Regions from separate parts of the Homo sapiens genome. Here region 2 is linked to region 1. Evidence: fine-mapped QTL for protein levels in blood plasma. A gene starts in region 1. The other region holds a variant in brackets. All regions are shown on one strand. Distances are between the middles of the regions.

Region 1 (9,906 bases):
AGAACCACTGGGTTAGAGGGTGACCTGGCATAAGGGCCAGGTTACTTTAGATTGGGTTGGAAATGTTTCTTCCAACAGGGTTATAAAAGAAGCTGTTAGTTCTTAAATATTTAGGAGCCGCTTCTACTTTTAAGGGCCCATATGATTATGACATTGAATGCAAGCCATTAGGCAAGACCTTGTGATATGGTTTGGTTGTGTTCCCACCCAAATCTCATTTTGAATTGTAACTCCCATAATTCCCACGTGTTGTGGGAGGGACCTGGTGGGAGATAATTGAATCACTGGGGACGGTTTCCCCCATACTGTTCTTGTGGTAGTGAATAAGTCACACAAGAGCTGATGGTTTTATAAGGGGTTTCCCCTTTCACTTGGCTCTCATATTTCTGTCTTGTCTGCTGCCAGTAAGACGTGCCTTTCACCCTCTGCCATGATTGTGAGGCATCCCTAGCCACGTGGAACTGTGAGTCCATTAAACCTCTATTTCTTTACAAATTACCCAGTCTTCGGTATGTCTTTATCAGCAGCATGAAAATGGACTAATACACCTCCAAAATCTCATGTTGAATTTTAATCCCCAGTGTCGGAGGAGGGACCTGGTGGGAGGTGACTGGATTATGGGGTGGTTTCTAACAGTTCAGCACCATCCCCCTAGTGCTGTCTTGTGGCAGAGCTTAGGAAATCTGGTTGTTTGAAAGTGTGTAGCACTTCCCCCTTTGCTGTCTTCCTCCTGCTCCCGCCAAGTAAGGCATTCTTGCTTCCCCTTCTCCACCATGATTCTAAGTTTCCTAAGGCCTTCCCAGAAGCAGAAGCCTATACAGCCCAAAGAACTGCGAGCCAATTAAACCTCTTTTCTTTATAAATTACCCAGTCTCAGGTACTTCTTTATAGCAGTGTGAGAATGGACTAATACACCTTGTTCCTGTGTTAACTTCCATTTGGTGAGCAAATATCAAGGGCCAGTTGCTAAGATAGATGCTCTTGACATAGTAACTGGAGTTAATCCTCACAATAATACCATAAGGTAAACTGAACCTTTGCCTCCAATTACAGGGGGAGGAAACAAGATTGAGGAAGAGAACTAATTTATGCAACTAACTTATGTGGTAGGTAGAATAATGCCTCTCTTCCCCAAAAATGTCCGTATCCTAACTCCAGGAACCTGTGAAAACAGGAGACCTTGCATGGCAAGTGACTTTGTAGATGAGATTAAGGAGATTATTTTGGATTATTCAATGGGCCCAATGTAATCCCAGGGGTCATTGAAAGAGGAAGAAGGTAGCAGAGTCTGTCAAAGACTCATGACCGACAACAGAAAAAGAGGCAAGAAATTTGAAGAATGAGATGAAGACACGAAGGGTTCCCTAAGCCAAGGCACACAGGCGGCCTTTAGAAGCTAAGAATGGTCCTCAACTGACACTCAGCAAAGAAACAGAACCTCAGTCCTCCAGTCACAAGGACTATATTCTACCAGGAACCTGAATGAGCACAGAAACAGACTCTCCCCTAGAGCCTCCAGAGCAGCACAGAGCCCTGCCACCTTGATTACAGCCCTGTGAGACCTGTGTCAGACTTCTGATTTACAGAATGGAAAGATTAATAAACTTGTGGCATTTGAAACAGCTAAATTTGTGGTGGTTTCAGCAGCAGTAGAAAATTATTATAAGGCCGAGTGTGGTGGCTCATGCCTATAATCCCAGCACTTTGGGAGGCTGAGGCGGGTGGATCACTTGAGGCCAGGAGTTCCAGACCAGCCTGGCCAACATGGTGAAACCCTGTCTCTACTAAAAAAAATACAAAAATTAGCCAGATGTGGTGGCACTCACCTGTAATCCCAGCTACTTGAGAGGCTGAGACACGAGAATCGCTTGCACCCAGGAGGTGGAGGTTGCAGTGAGCCAAGACTGTGCCACTGCACTCCAGCTTGGGCAACAGAGAGAGACTGTCTCAAAATTAAAAAAAAAAATTATTAAAATTATTATAGCAACCTCTGAACTGGAAACTGGTAGAACAGCATTTAAACCCAGGTCTAAGCTCTGAGTGAACGAACCATAGTTAAACTCTAGTGGGGAGACGGGAGACTTCTTATAAATTCAGCTTCTGAAATACATTAGTTAAGCTGAGGTCATTAGAGAAGAGAGTTGACATCAGTGGTGTTTCCACAAGATTCACAGTTGCCCATGAGTATGGTTACTCCTCCTAGGAGCCTGAGGCCTTACAGACTGAAGAATTTTAAGGCTAGAAGTGTCCTCAAAATAAAACCCAATGTTTTTATTTTATAGGAAATTAGTGGAGGCCCAGTGGGATGAAATTACCTGTCCCAAGGCAACATGTTAGTCGCAAAACCACCCTGGATGGATCTTGTTTCTATTCGCCAGGGGCTGGCAACTCACAAGATACCTAGTGTCAGCAATGTCAGAGAACTAGAGCTTTTGAACCCCAGGTCTGCGTGTCACCTTGGAGACATACACAATACCTGCTCTAGCCATGCCTGTTGAAGCGCCCAGACAAACATCCATCACTCAGTTCACGGAACAAATTACATCAGCAGGAAGAGACAAAGAGAAAACAACCATCATAACGGAAAAGGCTTTCCAATCCAGCCAAGGTTCTCATGCCAGGAATAACCACTCCAAAACTCTTTGTGTGATATACATATAAATTCTAGGGTACATGTGCAGGATGTGCAGATTTGTTTCATAGGTAAACGTGTACCATGGTGGTTTGCTGCACCTATCAACCCATCACCTAGGTATTAAGCCCAGCATGCATTAGCTGTTTTTCCTAATGCTCTATCCCCACCCACCCCACCTGCCGACAGGCGCCAGTGTGTGTTGTTCCCCTCCCTGTGTCCAAGTGTTCTCATTGGTCAGCTCCCACTTATTAGGCCAGAACTCTTTGGACCAAACAAATCTGCAGCTTCCCCTACAAGGGCCTTTCCTGCAGTTTGTTCCGGAATGCCAATCCCTAACTCTCCAAAGAGTCCTATCTCCGCACTCACGGCCCCTCCCGTGTTAAGTACACATGCAAAACCAAGGTTTAGTGAATATGTTTCCTAAGATATAGGACATAAGTAAAAAGAAGTCTTTGCCTTTAGAAAGCCTCAAGCACTTCTGGGCTTGGCAATGTCTGTGGCGGTTTGGCTGAGGTTCTTAAAGAGGTGGCCCAGAATTTTCCATGCTCTACTTTTCAAGAGCTTCTACCAGCAGCTGTCAAAGATGAATGCCATTAGGCACCCCACTCTCTCACCCTAAGATCCATTTTATTTAGGCTTTTATCTCCTAAGCCACTCAGCTAATGGGATGTTTTTCTTACAGCTAAGTTCAGCAAACAGTTTCTAGTTTCCACTGTGAAAATACAGAGGCCACAAGTTTTAGGACTGTTTGGCTTGTAGGGGAGGCAGCCTCCCTTTCTGCCTCTCCTTCATAAACTGCCACGTAAATAGCCACATTTTGGCAAACGTTGCCATCTCCCTCAACATTCGGGGCTCTGTGCCTTCTTCAGGGAACTGGGAGTAAACCGCCAGGAGTGGAGAACTTGAACAACTGCTCAGGGATCGCAGGGTACCTGAAATAATTAGCAGCCGCCGCGTTTGTGCTGAGCGCTTTCCGTCAATCATCTCAACCACCCTGTGAAGTGAAGCCTATTGTTTTACCCATCAAGTGCTGTTAAATACTTCCAGAAATGACCAGTGAAGAGCCTGGGTATCACTAAACGGCCATAAAAGGCACACTGCTTAATGTTGGTTTTTTTTGTTTGTTCTTTGTGGGTTTTGTTCGTTTTTGAGGCGGAGTCTCGCTCTTATTGCCCAGGCAGTAGGGCAATGGCGCGATCTCGGCTCACCGCTACCTCAGCCTCCCGGGTTAATGTTGTTTTTTGAAAAGTCAGCAGTCAGACTCTAAGAAGGGTGCGGCCCGAGCCGACCCAAGAAAACAAAACATCACGTTGTACTTAAAACGTCCGTTTCGGCCGGGCGCGGTGGCTCACACCTGTAATCCCAACACTTTGGGAGGCGGAGGCGGGCGGATCACGAGGTCAGGAATTCAAGATCAGCCTGACCAACATGGGAAAACCCCGTTTCTACTAAAAATACAAAATTTAGCCAGGCATGGTGGCGCATGCCTGTAATCCCAGCTACTCAGGAGGCTGTGGCAGGAGAATCGCTTGAACCCGGTACACGGAGGTTGCGGTGAACCCAGATCGCGCCACTGCACTCCAGCCTGGGCAACAGCGAAACTCCATCTCAAAAAAAAAAAAAAGTCCGTTTCGCCCGACACCTGCTTTTCAAAATTACACATTTAGACCGCGAGGGGAGAGAGGAACTGCCGTGACCACGGAGGGCTGGCCTTTCCCCCGGCGCAGTTTCTCTGGACCGCTAGAGCTTCCCTTGAGACGAAAGCGATGGCAGGGGCCCGGGTGCGAGGCTGCCCCCGAGGGAATGGGGGGCGCGACGGGGGTAACGGGGCTGCTTCTGGGAGAGGGCGCGCTCCCCGTTTCTCCTTCCTCGTAGATAAAATGAAGCCAGCGTTCGGCTAGGACACCGGGCCGCGGTGACGGGTTGGAAGGGCCAGGCCTCGGGAGGCTCGCCCGGCAGGGGTCGAGTGGAAAGCGAGGACGGGGGTAGCCCCCACAGACCCTCCGCCCGGGCCCAGACTGCCGCCGCCACCTCGGCTCGGCTCACCCAAACCCCAGCAGGCCTTCGGGCCTTCTTACCTGGCGGCGCCCAAGATCCTCTTCCAGCCTCGAGCCGCTTCTGCGCTCAGCCCCCGCATTCTTTCGCTCCAGCCCGCAAGGCTCCGCCCCCCGGCCCCGCCCCTCAGGATGCCCTTGCCCTCCCAGGCTCCCGGCTCCCGCACCGCGCAGCCGCACCTCGGCAGGAACCTCCTCCTCTCCCTCCACCCCCGCGCGGAGCTCAGCCTCCTGGCCCAGGTTCTGAGAAGGCCGGGTGGCCAGGACCCAATGAGCACCTTCAAAACCCCAGGGAACTGAAAGTTTGGGGCGTCCTCCTCGGATTTGCTATGGGACATAAAAACAGTAGGAAACTTCCAAAGACTTCTGATTTTCCCTTTTACTTTTTTTTTAAGTATATTAAAATGTTTTTCAAAACGTTTCTGTGCGTCTTGCTGGTGCCCTGGGTGCCCCAGGGCCTGGCTATCGGGCTATGCGGCCCTGCTGCAGTCTGAAGCTGCTTCCTACTGCGAGGCTTGGGCAGCATCCAAATAGCCATCAGCCACAGCCGCATCCGTATCCGTGCCTTGTGACTTGTTTGAGACCCAAACAAAATGTTATGCGTTTAAAAGCTTACTGGGCTGCTCGGGGACCAGTGTTTTGAATGAACCTCTTCGAGTGTCTCTATCAACTTAGCTGGTAGCTACTGTTCCCCAGCAGCCACCAGAGGCAGGGACAGAAGAGCAAGACCAGGGGATCCGCCTGCATGAGTCTGTCCCTTCAGGGTGGCCTCGCCTCAGGGACTGGATTGTAGGCATGGTTTCAATAACACAGCGGTGTGAAAGTTTAAGAGTTTTTAGTACTTACGGACCCTGGGTGGTACACAGCTTGCCTAGAGGACACACACACACACACACACACACACACACACACACACACGGAGATCAGGGAGAACAGGGAGAGGGAAGGGAGGAACGGACCTTTGGGCCAGCAACTTTATCCAGTTAGGTTTCCTCTGGAGAGCTCTAACTGGTGGATTTAAAAGCAAGCAGGTGAAAAGGCAGAGGTGGGAGGAACTTGAACCAGAGTTTGAAGCTGCAGTAGTGCCCTGTTATCACATCACTGCATGTTTATCTCTGGCCACCAGCTAGAGCCATTTGCGTGGGGTATAGTACTGGAAACTGTCAATGGTGACTGAGACTTGCTTCTGTTATTAAAAGTTAAACATATTCAAAAATGGATGCTGAGGTAACAAAAAATTATAAGCACTCACCAGAACCGCAACCACCATTTGGAACATTAGTTTTATGTGCAGATGTAATTAGAAGTTTCCATTTGCTATTATATTTGGAAAGTGTCCCACTCACTGCAGAACTGACTGTAAGAACGCCATAGGAGGGAGGGTGGGGCTACAGGCCAAAAGTACAAGTCTTCCTCCAAGAGGATGGCCTCTGTTAGAAAGCATGAGACACACTTTGAGGGTCAGGGTGAGAAGATATTACATCTCAGGGCTGCTTGTGTTGAACTGGTCAGGGAAGAAGGCATGAGATAAAATTTAAGCAGGGGGAATCATAGATTACTGAATGTCTTGCAGGGAAAATCATATAGTAACTGTCTTGACGCTTCTACTGTTATTCTGATGGCTTTGGGATGTCAGGGAATGAGTTCCATTTGGTGGTGCTCAAATCCTGGTATTCCTCTATACAAGTGGGAGTTTTTTAAATCAGGATGACTTGCTTTGATATTTAAAGCATGTCTCCTTAAAACAGCTAATACTGTATATTTCCCAAGATGGATTCCAAAGCTCTTTTGTGTACATACCTTACACACATCCTGTTAGCTATTCCTTCCTTGACACGCTTGGCTTCTGAGATGCCACTCTCTCCTAGTTTGGTTCCCTAGAATGGTTTCTTGACCATTCGGTCTTGAGATTCTTTTCCTTTACCCACTAATAATTTGGTGTCCCAGGATTAGACTGAGAACCATGGCTGTGTGTGCTCCCTGGGAGACTATAGTGTATCTACTCTTTTACCTTGGGATGTATGTTTGCAGATGATTCAAAAGTCTGTCTCCATCCCTGACCACTCCCCCTATCTTCATATTCATATCCAGCTGACTGCTGGACATCTCCACTTATATGTTCCACAGACATCTTGAACTTAATGTGCACAAATCTGAATTCATCTTTAAAGAGTGACTGCTTTTCCTGAATTTTTTTCATAAATGAAGACAGAAACCTAGGAATCAACGTTGACCTCTTCCACTCCCTCACATCTACTCAGCCATTCCTGCCTATTTTACCATTTCAATATCTCAATTTCATTCCTTTTTCACATTGCTACTGTGCTAATTCAGATCTGTAGTTTGCGTTGCTTGAGCCATTACAATTCCTTAATACCAGGTCCCCATGTTGCCCATGTCAATTCCTGCATCCCCTGCCCCTTCTCTGCTTGCCCTCCACACGGCTGCTAGAGACCTGGCTAGTTTACCTCTCCAGCCTCATGCCTCACTTTTCATTTTCCACTTCATTTTACCTTGTTATCATCATCCTTTTGTGAATACAATATGCCTGCAGCAGCCAGTATGCAACCATGATCGTCTTTGAGAGGAAAAGTCTTGTGCTAAGGATGGCAGGTCAGAAAGATGGAGCCAATCTGGACTGTTGATAACACCACTGTGCCATCATGTCAGCCTTGAACTAGCTACCTCTGACTATTCGCAAGAATAACCACCCCCAAACTATTTAAGCTACTGTTAATTTAGGTATTTGTCTTATTCTAGTGATATATCAAGCCTCAGAGAAATTAGTAAAAAAAATCAGTTGTGTTTTCAAGGGTCCTCAGAGCCAGAAATGGCCTTTTCACCACCAAAAGTAGAGTCTGGTTTGGGCAACATTAATGCCAACTGTTAAATTCCTGTTACGTGTGAATAAGCATTCTTGCCAATAGCAGAAAATACAGAAGCTTGTTACCAACAAACTTCACGTTAGGCCGGGCGCGGTGGCTCACACCTGTAATCCCAACACTTTGGGAGCCAGAGGCAGGAGGATCACTTAAAGACAGGAGTTTGAGACCAGCCTGGTCAATATAGTGAAACCCTGGCTCTACTAAAAATGCAAAAAAGGGCATGGTAGTGCACACCTGTGATCCCAGCTACCCACGAGGCCGAGGCATAAGAATCACTTGAACCTGGGAGGCGGAGGTTGGAGTCAGCCGAGATCATGCCACTGCACTCCAGTCTGGGAGACACAGCGAGACTGTCTGAAAAAACAAACAAAAAACTACACCTCAGTATGAACTAGAGGTCACTCATTCAACATACTAAGAGAATGTGAATTCTGATGAGAGGATAAAGCAAATCAAAGCATTCTGAGGAGCAAAGGTTAGACAGGGTTGGAAGGGAGATTTGGGGCATCATAAGTACTCTGGAAATAGAGAGAGAGGTCATCAGAAAAGAGAAAGAAAAAATGGCAAGGGATTCCAGGGCCAGCCTTAATTGCCAAGATTTACTAGTTTTTGATTACTGCTTTATTGGAAAAGTTCGGTTTTGAAAAAATTAAGTGGTTTGACGCTATGGTCTGAATGTTTTTGTTCCCCCAAATTGTTGAAATCCAATCCCTAAAGCAATAGTATTAAGAGGTAGGGCCTTTAGGCTCTGCCCTCATGAAGGGGATTAGTGCCCTTATAAAAGAGGCCTGAGGAAGTTTGTTTGCTCTTTCCACCACATAAAACACAGCAAGAAGGTGCCATCTTTGAAGCAGAGAGTGGGTACTTACCAGACACCAAATTTGCTGATGCCTTGATCTTGGACTTCCCACCCTCCAGAACTGTGAGCAATAAATCTCTATTGTTTGTAAATGACTCAGTCTAAGGTATTTTGTTATAACAAACTAAATAAAGACAATTGACTTTTTTTCTAAAAAGGATAGCCGCCGGGGGCGGTGGCTCACGCCTGTAATCCCAGCACTTTGGGAGGCCAAGGTGGGCAGATCATGAGGTCAGGAGATCGAGACCATCCTGGCTAACATGGTGAAACCCTGTCTCTACTAAAAATACAAAAACTTAGCCGGCCGTGATGGTGGGCACCTGTAATCCCAGCTACTTGGGAGGCTGTGGCAGGAGAATGGCGTGAACCCGGGAGGTGGAGCTTGCAGTAAGTCGAGATCACACTACCGCACTCTAGCCTGGGCCACAGAGTGAGACTCCGTCTCAAAAAAAAAAAAAAAAAAGGATAGCCATAATAGGATTTGATAGCCTGATTATACTCTATTAAATGAAAAGTAAACATGAAAAATGACTTAGTCTATTTCAGAACACCTTGACATGTGTGAAAATGAAAGGATAAGTTTGTCTTCATGTTCCCTAATGGCAGCTGCTTAGCCTTGAATGCCACTTGTTTTCTTACAGTTTTCTCTATAAAATAACTGTTCTTGGGGGAAAATGGATGGTGGGGCACACAAGACAGTACAGTCAAAGCTAGGAGATGACTTTGAGTGGACCTGCTACTTTTGCAGCAGGTCAGCAAGAATCCATCCCATCTTCTACCTTAAAAGCAAATGCTGACTAATATTAGTTTATGGAAAATAAGCAATTATACAAAATACAGAATTGGAACCAAAATTTGCTTTTAAAATGTGAGTTTTTAACACTTGAAGGATTTCATTCTTAACTCTCAATTATATAATTACAAAAAAAATCCAAGTTTCAGGAAAACATACTTAATCCTAACATAAAATTCATGTCACTTATCACAAAGACAGTCAAGTGTATAAAGGAGAAACAAAACAGAAGCAGTATTTACAAATTTAAACTACATGAGATGTTGTGAACAATCTTTTGTTAATAAACAGCACGTTACATACTTTTACATACTACATTTCAAAAATGCATCTGTGAATAATATGATAAAGCGCATAGTGTTGAAGACTTTAAATTAAATCCAAGGTCATCATGTTGAAGACCTGAAATTAAATTCAAGGTTGTAGTGATGAAAAATTTAAAGTCAAGGTCTTAGCGATAAAGACTTTAAATTCAAAGACAGATTGTCTAAGGACAAACCACTAGCGTTCAAGTTGTTTAGTCAATTAGTTCTCTGTGAGTACAAAATATTAGGAATCACTAAATGGATTAGCCTAATTACAAATTTTGATCATTTCTAAATAACTCACAACTGCAAGAAGTCTTTTCACAGAATGAGTCACATAGTTTCTCTCTATCCTTGTGCAGGTATTTTAAATCC
Region 2 (8,000 bases), 18 kb before region 1:
AATATTTGTGTATCTGACCATATCTAAACATAGAAAAATACAGTAAAAATATGACACAAAAGATTTTAAAAATGGTACACCTGTACAGGGCACTTACTGTGAATGGAGCTTGTGAGATTGGAAGTCAGTGAATGAGTGGTGGGCGAATGTGAAGGCCTAGGACATTGCTGTACACTACTGTAGATGTTTTAAATATTGTACATTTAGTCCACACTAAGCTTATTTTAAAAAATCAACCCTAGTTTACTGCCACTTTACTTTAGAAATTTTTTAATTGTAAATGTTTTTACCTTTGTAATAAAACAGGGTAAAACACAAACATGTTATACAGTGGCACAAAAATATTTTCTTTCTATTCTTATTTTATAAGCTTTTTTATTTAAAAAAATTTTTAAAAACTTTTCTTGTTTTTGTTAAAAATGAAGACACAAGCACACACATTAGCCTAGTCCTACATAGGGTCTGGATCATCAGTATCACTGTTTTCCACCTCTTCATCTTGTCCCACTGGAAGGTCTTAGGGGTAAGAATACTCATGGGGCTGTCCTGTCCTAGGAGAGCAATGCCTTCTTCTGGAATACCTCCTGAAGGACCTGCCTGCTGAGGCTGTTTTTTTTTTTTTTTTTCTTTTGTAGAGACAGAGTCTTGTTCTGTCACCCAGGCTAGAGTACAATGGCACGACCTTGGCTCACTGCAACCTCTGCCTCCTGGGTTCAAGCAATTCTTCTGCCTCAGCCTCCCGAGAGGCTGTTTTATAGTTAATTTTTTTAGTAAGTAGAAGGACTACATGCTAACATGATAAAAAATATAGTAAATACACAAACCAGTAACACATTTATTATAAAATATTATATACTGTATATAATTATCAAAATATCAAGTATTATATATTGTGTTATATTTTAGTTTTGTAATAAACTACCAAACTGTCATCCACAGTAGCTATACTGGTTTGCATTCCCACTAGGAATGAATCAAAGTTCCCACTGCTGCTGGGCGTGGTAGCTCACGCCTGTAATCCCAGCACTTTGGGAGGCCGAGGCAGGCAGATCACTTGAGGCCAGGAGTTTGAGATGAGCCTGGGCAAAATAGTGAAACCCCGTCTCTACTAAAAATACAAAAATTAGCTGGGCATGGTGGCTTATGCCTGTAATCCCAATTACTCAGGAGGCTGAGGCATGAGAATCACTTGAACCCTGGAGGCAGAGGTTGCAGTGAGCCAAGATTGCACCACTGCCCTCTAGCCTAGGTGACAGAGCAAGACCTTGTCTCAAAAAAGAAAAAAAAAACCAGAAAAACAAAGTTCCCATTGTTCCACATCCTCACCAGCATCTGGAGTTGTCAGAGTTTTGGAGTTTGGCCATTTTAATAGGTGTGTCTCATTTTTGTTTACATTAACCATTTATAAGAAATTTTGGGATTTAAGAGCTGGAAAAAGATCTTGGCTTTGACCTCCTTTCCTCTCCTCCCTACCTCTGCTGTCCAACACATACATTTCATAAATGAAAAACAGAGGTGGAGAGAGCTAGCTGGTGGCAGGACAGAAGTCAGAGCTCTAATTGCTGCTGTAATATTCATTCAACACATAGTAATTGCCCTTATCGTCTCATTTGGAAACTATACTTAGTTTAATTATACTTAGTAGTGAGGAGTCCAAGAGACACAGTTGATCAAGCTAAAGAGCCAAGTCTTCTGTGCTCGTACATAATGACCATGTTCTCGCTAGGGGCCTTACTACGCTTCCTACATTAACAGTGAATGAATATGGTCTTCCAGTGGGGGCAGAGGGACTGGTGCCCTACAGAATCAAGAGCTCTGAATGGAAGGTTTGGAGTTTTAGCTGCAATCCAGCTAAACTATATCAAATTTATCAAATCCAGCTAAATATATCAAAATTATCAGATGCCCCTGTTTTTTTAGACAGGGTAACTATAATTTGTCTTTAGTTATTGAGGGATTTCTCCTTTCTGGGGAAGTTAATCATCTTTATCTCAGGTTTTTCTGAACATGTGGGTGTCCCAAGGCTTTTCTGAGTTTACCTGACATGTTCACCATTTCTTGATGTTGACACTGGGGGGAGCTGGTGTAGAAGGTCTAAGAGTACAAATAACCTTGTGGAGTGTTTTTATTATTAATCTCTTAGAAATCTAAGCCTGAGGGTTTTACCTTGGACACTAAGAACATTCTGAAACTGCCATTCCTCGCTGGCATCATTTGCACACATCGATTCTATCCAGAACCACACCCCAGCAAGAACAGAGGGCATGTCTTTGCTGGTTTCTTTCCTCTGTCTACCACTTCCTAAACTCTATTTTAACAGGGTGATGGAGGTGAATATTCTGTAGTCTAACAAATTTGGAAAATGCAGACTGGACAGGACTTGTGCATGTTAGCATTGCCCATCCCCAAATTCATGAGCACCTTGCTCTGAGGCTACCGAGCCCTGGCACCTGCTGTTGCCCCTCCCAGGCACACCCTTCCCTTCTTAGCCCTCTTACCTCCTACGTGTCCTTTGAGCTCAGCTTGAGTCTCCTCAGGACTCTGAATATACCAGATACCCCATGGAATGAGACAGAGGCATATATAATGACATTTAGGACAGCCAAACAGGCCTTTGTCATAATTTTAATTGTATGTGTCCTTTCTTTATCTTTGCATCCCTAGCTCCTAACCCTCTGCTGGGCACACAGTAGGTTCTCCAAGGTCTGGGAGGCAGCACAGGGCTGCTGTAAAAGAGCACAAGCTTTGGAATCAGATGGACTTCCATGTTCAATTCCTGAGTCGGTTACTTAACCATAATTTCTTGCTTAATCTGAACCTCCATTTCCACATTTATCAAATGGAAATAAAAGATCACCCTTAGAAGTGCAAAACATTAAATTTAAAATGTATGAAGAAAGTGCTTAGCCCAATACACACCTGACGCTAATAAATGGTAGCTATTACTTGATGCAAGCCTAATGAGGATTACAGTGGCACAATTTTTTTCCCAGGCACTTATTACCCCATTACATTTAGGAGACAGACAGGGGAGGCTCTTACCAGCTTTGGTAATGAGACACGCATCAAAATCAGATGAACAATTGACGGCTGTTTTGCAGTCAGCAGTTGGGTTAGGACAGTTGTAGCACTGCAGGCTATGACCTAGAATCAGGAAGAAAGTCAGGATCTCTTAAAGCAGCACTGACTTGTCCCCTGGCAGCCCACCATCTCCATTAATATGGGCCCAAAGTCAGCAACTTGTGGTATACTTCCACTCCCGCACAAATGTATAGCAGTTATATCTTTCCAAATTCAAACTACAGTTCCAGCAACATTTTTTGGACCCTGATGCAAGCACAAAGGAAATATCCACATTTGAATATCCATCTAACTGTGCAATTGAGAAGCTTCCTCCTAACCTGCAACTGGAAGGAGATTAGTCTGCAATGTAATGATGTGTTAAGAAGAAATTACCGAGAAACAAACAGAATTCTATAAGTGTCTTCCAAGCAATGAATATGCCCAATTAAATCACATCCTCGTGGGTTGATGATCAATGTCTGGCAATACCTATCTGCGTGAAAATACATTTTCAAAATGAAATATGTAAAATGTCATCACAGATTAGTATTAATAGATGAACATCTGCAATTGATTTGATGCGAGGGAACACTAATTTTGAACCCCAATTAAGCAAATGGTTATCCCCCTAAAAAGAATTCTATTCCCCTCATTAGTAGATGTGTATTATTATGCTGGACTCAATAATTATGTTATGAATTTTGTCAATAAAAAAATCTGTGAAAATTTTGTTTCTTATTATTGAGGTAAGTCTCATAATACCCTTGATTTTGCCTCTTGGTCTGCAAAGCTTAAAATATTTACTATCTGGGCCAGGCGCAGTGGCTCACGCCTGTAATCCCAGCACTTAGGGAAGCCGAGGAGGGTGGATCACCTGAGGTCAGGAGTTTGACACCAGCCTGGCCAACATAGCGAAACCCCATCTCTACTAAAAATAAAAAAATTAGCCAGGCATGGTGGTGCACACCTATAATCCCAGCTACTTGGGAGGCTGAGGCAGGAGAATCGCTTGAACCCAGGAGGCAGAGGTTGCAGTGAGCCACAATTGCACCACTGCACTCCAGCTTGGGTGACAGAGCAAAACTCTGTTTAAAAAAAAAAAAAAATTGCTATCTGGTCCTGTACAGAAAAAGTTTGGTAACCTCTGGGACAGGGTATCATTACTGAACTACCCCCTTCTAAGGGACTGACCGAATGCCAGGAGTACACACTGTCAAAGACAAGACAACAGCTGTGCACTTTAAACCCATGGGCATAGGACAGCTGGGTACCAGCAGACACAACGTGAGGGTCATCTTACATCAGAAGCAAATTGCCTCCAGTTCCCTAGTTTGAAAAACAATTATTGCTCCCAGTCAATTCTTAAGACTCATCCTTGCTAGCTGTCAGTTTTTGCTGGGTTATTTTTCCTTCTCCATTTTTGTAACAACAGTGACAACAAAAAGATGAGTTACAGTCCACACGTGTGATGGGGAGAGACTGAGGAAGCAAGAGTTGGAAGGAAATCTTCCTGGTTTGTATGGATACCCCCTTTTCCATCATCAGAGATAAACTATCTTCATGCCATATGACTTCTACCATGTAATCAGTATTTGGAAGTACCTACCTCTGTGAAAAGACATTTTCAAAGATGAAACACGTAAAATCTCACAAAAGAATGTCATGGTTAAACCAAGTGTGGGTTTTAGAGCCCAACAGCTGACTTCTAGTTCTAAGGCTGAAGGCTAGGTTTATCACCATGGAAATAGATTTTTCAGTGGAAAGTCCAGTGGAAGCAAGGTGGGTCCTCACTTTCTGAGCACACACAGGAACCCAGTTCTCTAGAGCATCTGAAATGGCCATGTCTGCCCTCACAGGTGTGAAATCCTACCCAATAGAGGATCCTCTGACTTGTGAAGGTTACAGATTAATGCCTTGAAATATTAGTTTTAAAAAACAACAACAAACTAGGCCAGGTGTGGCGGCTCACACCTACAATCCCAGCACTTTGGGAGGCCGAGGTGGGTGGATCACTTGTAGCCAGGAGTTTGAGACCACCCTGGCCAACATGGTGAAACCTCGCCTCTACAAAATATACAAAGATTAGCCGGGCATGGTGGTACATGCCTGTAATCCCAGCTATTCAGGAGGCTAAGGCATGAGAATCATTTGAGCTTGGGAGGTGGAGGGTGCAGTGAGCCAAGCTTGCACCACTGCACTCCAGCCTGGGAGACAGAGCGAGACCATGTCTAAAAAATAAATAAAATAAAATAAAATAAAAACCAACCTCCTCCCCAACTTTTTTGCAGATGACAAGACAGATGTCTGGAGAGGTGATGTGACTCACACAAGGACACCTGGCTACAAAGCAGCAGAGCTGGCGGCAGCCCTGGGGCCTGTGGGCAGGGCCCCATCCACCAGGCTTTGTTTGTTCTCCCCCACTGTCAGCCTGTGGCTGTCATGCCCGTGTGAGAGGGAAGCCACAAGGAGAAGGCGCAAAGATGCAATTTTTCTTTGGTCCCTTCCTTGTGCCAGACATGTATTCACACGCATGAAATGAAAAGAGTCTAAGATGAAGGGTGTTGTTCTTGAGACTGGCCATGTTTGAGGGCCATTTTAAAAGGTTACCTGTAGACATGGATTTTTGTGGTGGCTAGATCCCGGGCTCATTTGGCCTCTTAAGAAAGCTTTAGAAGGAAAGGCTAAAACCCATGGTTGGAACGTCTGTGGGCAAAAATATTCATGGCAAACATGTTCATTCAGTGTTCAAATATATGTGCATCTATGTGCTAAGCTCTTCATAGGATTGTTAAGAGAACTAGGCTCAATTATCTTCATCCCCACCTTGCAAGAGAAAACTAAGACTAAGATGTTAACTAAATTGTTCAAAGCCACACAGCTACTAAGTGACCGAGCTGAGCTCAAACTCAGGCTGTCAGTTCTAAAATCCAAGCTTGGTTAACCATGATGTTCTTCTAATTGACCTGAGTGGGAAGAGAAGGAAACTCTAGATTATGGTGGAAACTGAGGTCAAAAACAAGCAACAGGGCCAGGTGCAATGGCTCACGCCTGTAATCCCAACACTTTGGCAGGCTGAGGTAGGTGGATCATTTGAGGTCAGGAATTCCAGACCAGCCTGGCCAACATGGTGAAAGCCCGCCTCTACTAAAAATACAAAAATTAAAAAGTAAATAAAAAAAAATACAAAAATTAGCCAGGCATAGTGGCATGCTCCTGTAATCCCAGCTACTCAGAAGACTGAGGCAGGAGAATCGCTGGAACCTGGGACACGGAGGTTGCAGTGAGCCGAGATCGCGCCACTGCGCTCCAGCCTGGGCGACAGAGTGAGACTCCATCCCCCTGAAAAAAACAAACAAAAAAAAACAAGCAATAGGTCAGTGGACAATGGTTTGATATTTTAGCCACTAAGCCAGGGTAGACGAGGTTTCCCCTGGGCCATAAGAGGCAGAGCTCAGAGGAAAGTTCCCCTGCAGGGTCCTGAGACCCTTTTGGGCAGCAGCAAAGAAGGCCTCTCATCTGTGGGCATGTGAGCTTCACATCTCAATTCTCTGAGAAAGGGCTGAAGTGCACCCCAAGACTTGTCACAGAGAAGCTGATGGTCCCAAGCTTGCTCCATAAACAAATGCAGACTGCTGGAAGTAGGATGTCACTGGGCTATTAAAATTCTAGAAAATATTCCAACTTAAGCAGCAGAGACAGAAAAAAAGAAGGAACCAAGAAAAATGAATAAATAAAAAATAATTATAGAAAAAATATAGTGTTTTAACACAGGTGAACCACATTACAGTGCACCCTGGCTAGAATCACGGAAGGTGGGGAAGAAGGGGTGCCATGACTTCTCTTTCTGCTCAGAAAGGGAGAACATATTAAAGTGTGTCCTGGCGCCAAGTTACTACTTTGCCTTCATTTCCTCAGCTGTAATATGGGAGGTAACAGTACCGACCTCCCGGAATGGCTGGACGGATTTAAATGAGACAGGCTCTGGCACAGTCCCCAGTAAACAATAAACAGTGAATATATGGTTGCTGTTAATATTCTAAGACATGCTACAGTGGTGTGGAAATCTTTTTTTAAATTGCTCACTGTATTGCCACTTTCTTTTCTGCTCCCCCCACCAACCATATTTATAAAAAACAAAAAACCAGCAGTGGCCAAGATATTATACCAACATGACACAGGCAGACAACCACACTTGATCTTTACAATGAAGCATGTGTGTTTCCACTGTTATAGAAGTTGACTCAGAAGCACACAATTTCCTCCAGCAACCAGGGGAGGGGTGGCTGAGGAGAGGGGGTGGCCCAGTGACAGATGGCCTGGAGCAGGAGGGAAGAGCAGGGACTCTGTTGCCAGACTGTGTGTTCACATTCCCGTGTACCACTTCTGTGTGTTATTTGACAAGTTATTAATTTTGGGGAGGCCTCAATCTTGTTGCTTGTAAAACAAGGATAAAAATACCACCAACTCCATCAGGTTGGCATGAGGATTAAATAAGCAAATACACGTAAAATGCTTAGAGTAGTGACTGGCACATAAATGCTTCAGGGTTAGTTAGCTGCTGCTGCTGTCACTATGACCATCATCATCATTAAAACACAGGAGGAGCCTCAGAGCAGAAGGACTGAGCTCAGATGGCTCTAAGCAGAGTGGACCCCAAAGGGACTTGCACAGCACTCTAAGAATGGTATCCATTGGTGTCCCCAAGCAGCTTATGGTGACAGGAGTGAAACTTCAGCCGCCGA[T/G]TGTTGACCCACCCCTGCCAAAAGCCACGCTGTAACTCAGGACGGGCTGTAACTCAGGACGATGCCCCACTGAGGACAAGGTCATAACATAGGAAGGAGCTGTCATACAACCCCAGACCTGTAACACTGGAAGGCAAAAGAACCAAAGCCAGGCCTGGAGGAGCAGCTGGGGCTGAAACTGAGGCTTAAGAAGGG

Alleles and levels. Alleles are on the strand shown, and positions count from the first base shown. The strength of an association depends on the size of the effect and on how common the allele is.
In carriers of allele T in region 2, the plasma level of the protein whose gene starts at base 4,755 in region 1 tends to be higher than with G alone (strong association).

What was found. A credible set is the group of variants that fine-mapping cannot tell apart. PIP is the posterior inclusion probability: the model's chance that the variant is causal. The UK Biobank Pharma Proteomics Project read protein levels with antibody pairs (Olink). The fine-mapping took linkage between variants from a reference panel, not from the people measured, so its PIPs are less certain.
Region 2: its variant is the best candidate, but not a certain one, in a credible set for the plasma level of the CD59 protein (UK Biobank, PIP 0.50).

What each region holds. Positions count from the first base shown.
Region 1 is chr11:33,731,669-33,741,574 of GRCh38, forward strand. CD59 (CD59 molecule (CD59 blood group)) reads right to left here and starts at 4,755. Exons shown (of 4, transcript NM_000611.6): 1 at 4,714-4,755. It overlaps FBXO3 (F-box protein 3), which reads right to left. Exons shown (of 11, transcript NM_012175.4): 11 at 9,276-9,906. RefSeq lists an enhancer at 785-914 and a silencer at 4,404-4,873.
Region 2 is chr11:33,714,328-33,722,327 of GRCh38, forward strand. CD59 (CD59 molecule (CD59 blood group)) reads right to left here. Exons shown (of 4, transcript NM_000611.6): 3 at 3,043-3,144. Among named protein-coding and RNA genes, the nearest start is that of C11orf91, 18 kb to the left of the region's middle. The variant T/G (reference allele first, on the strand shown) is at 7,806.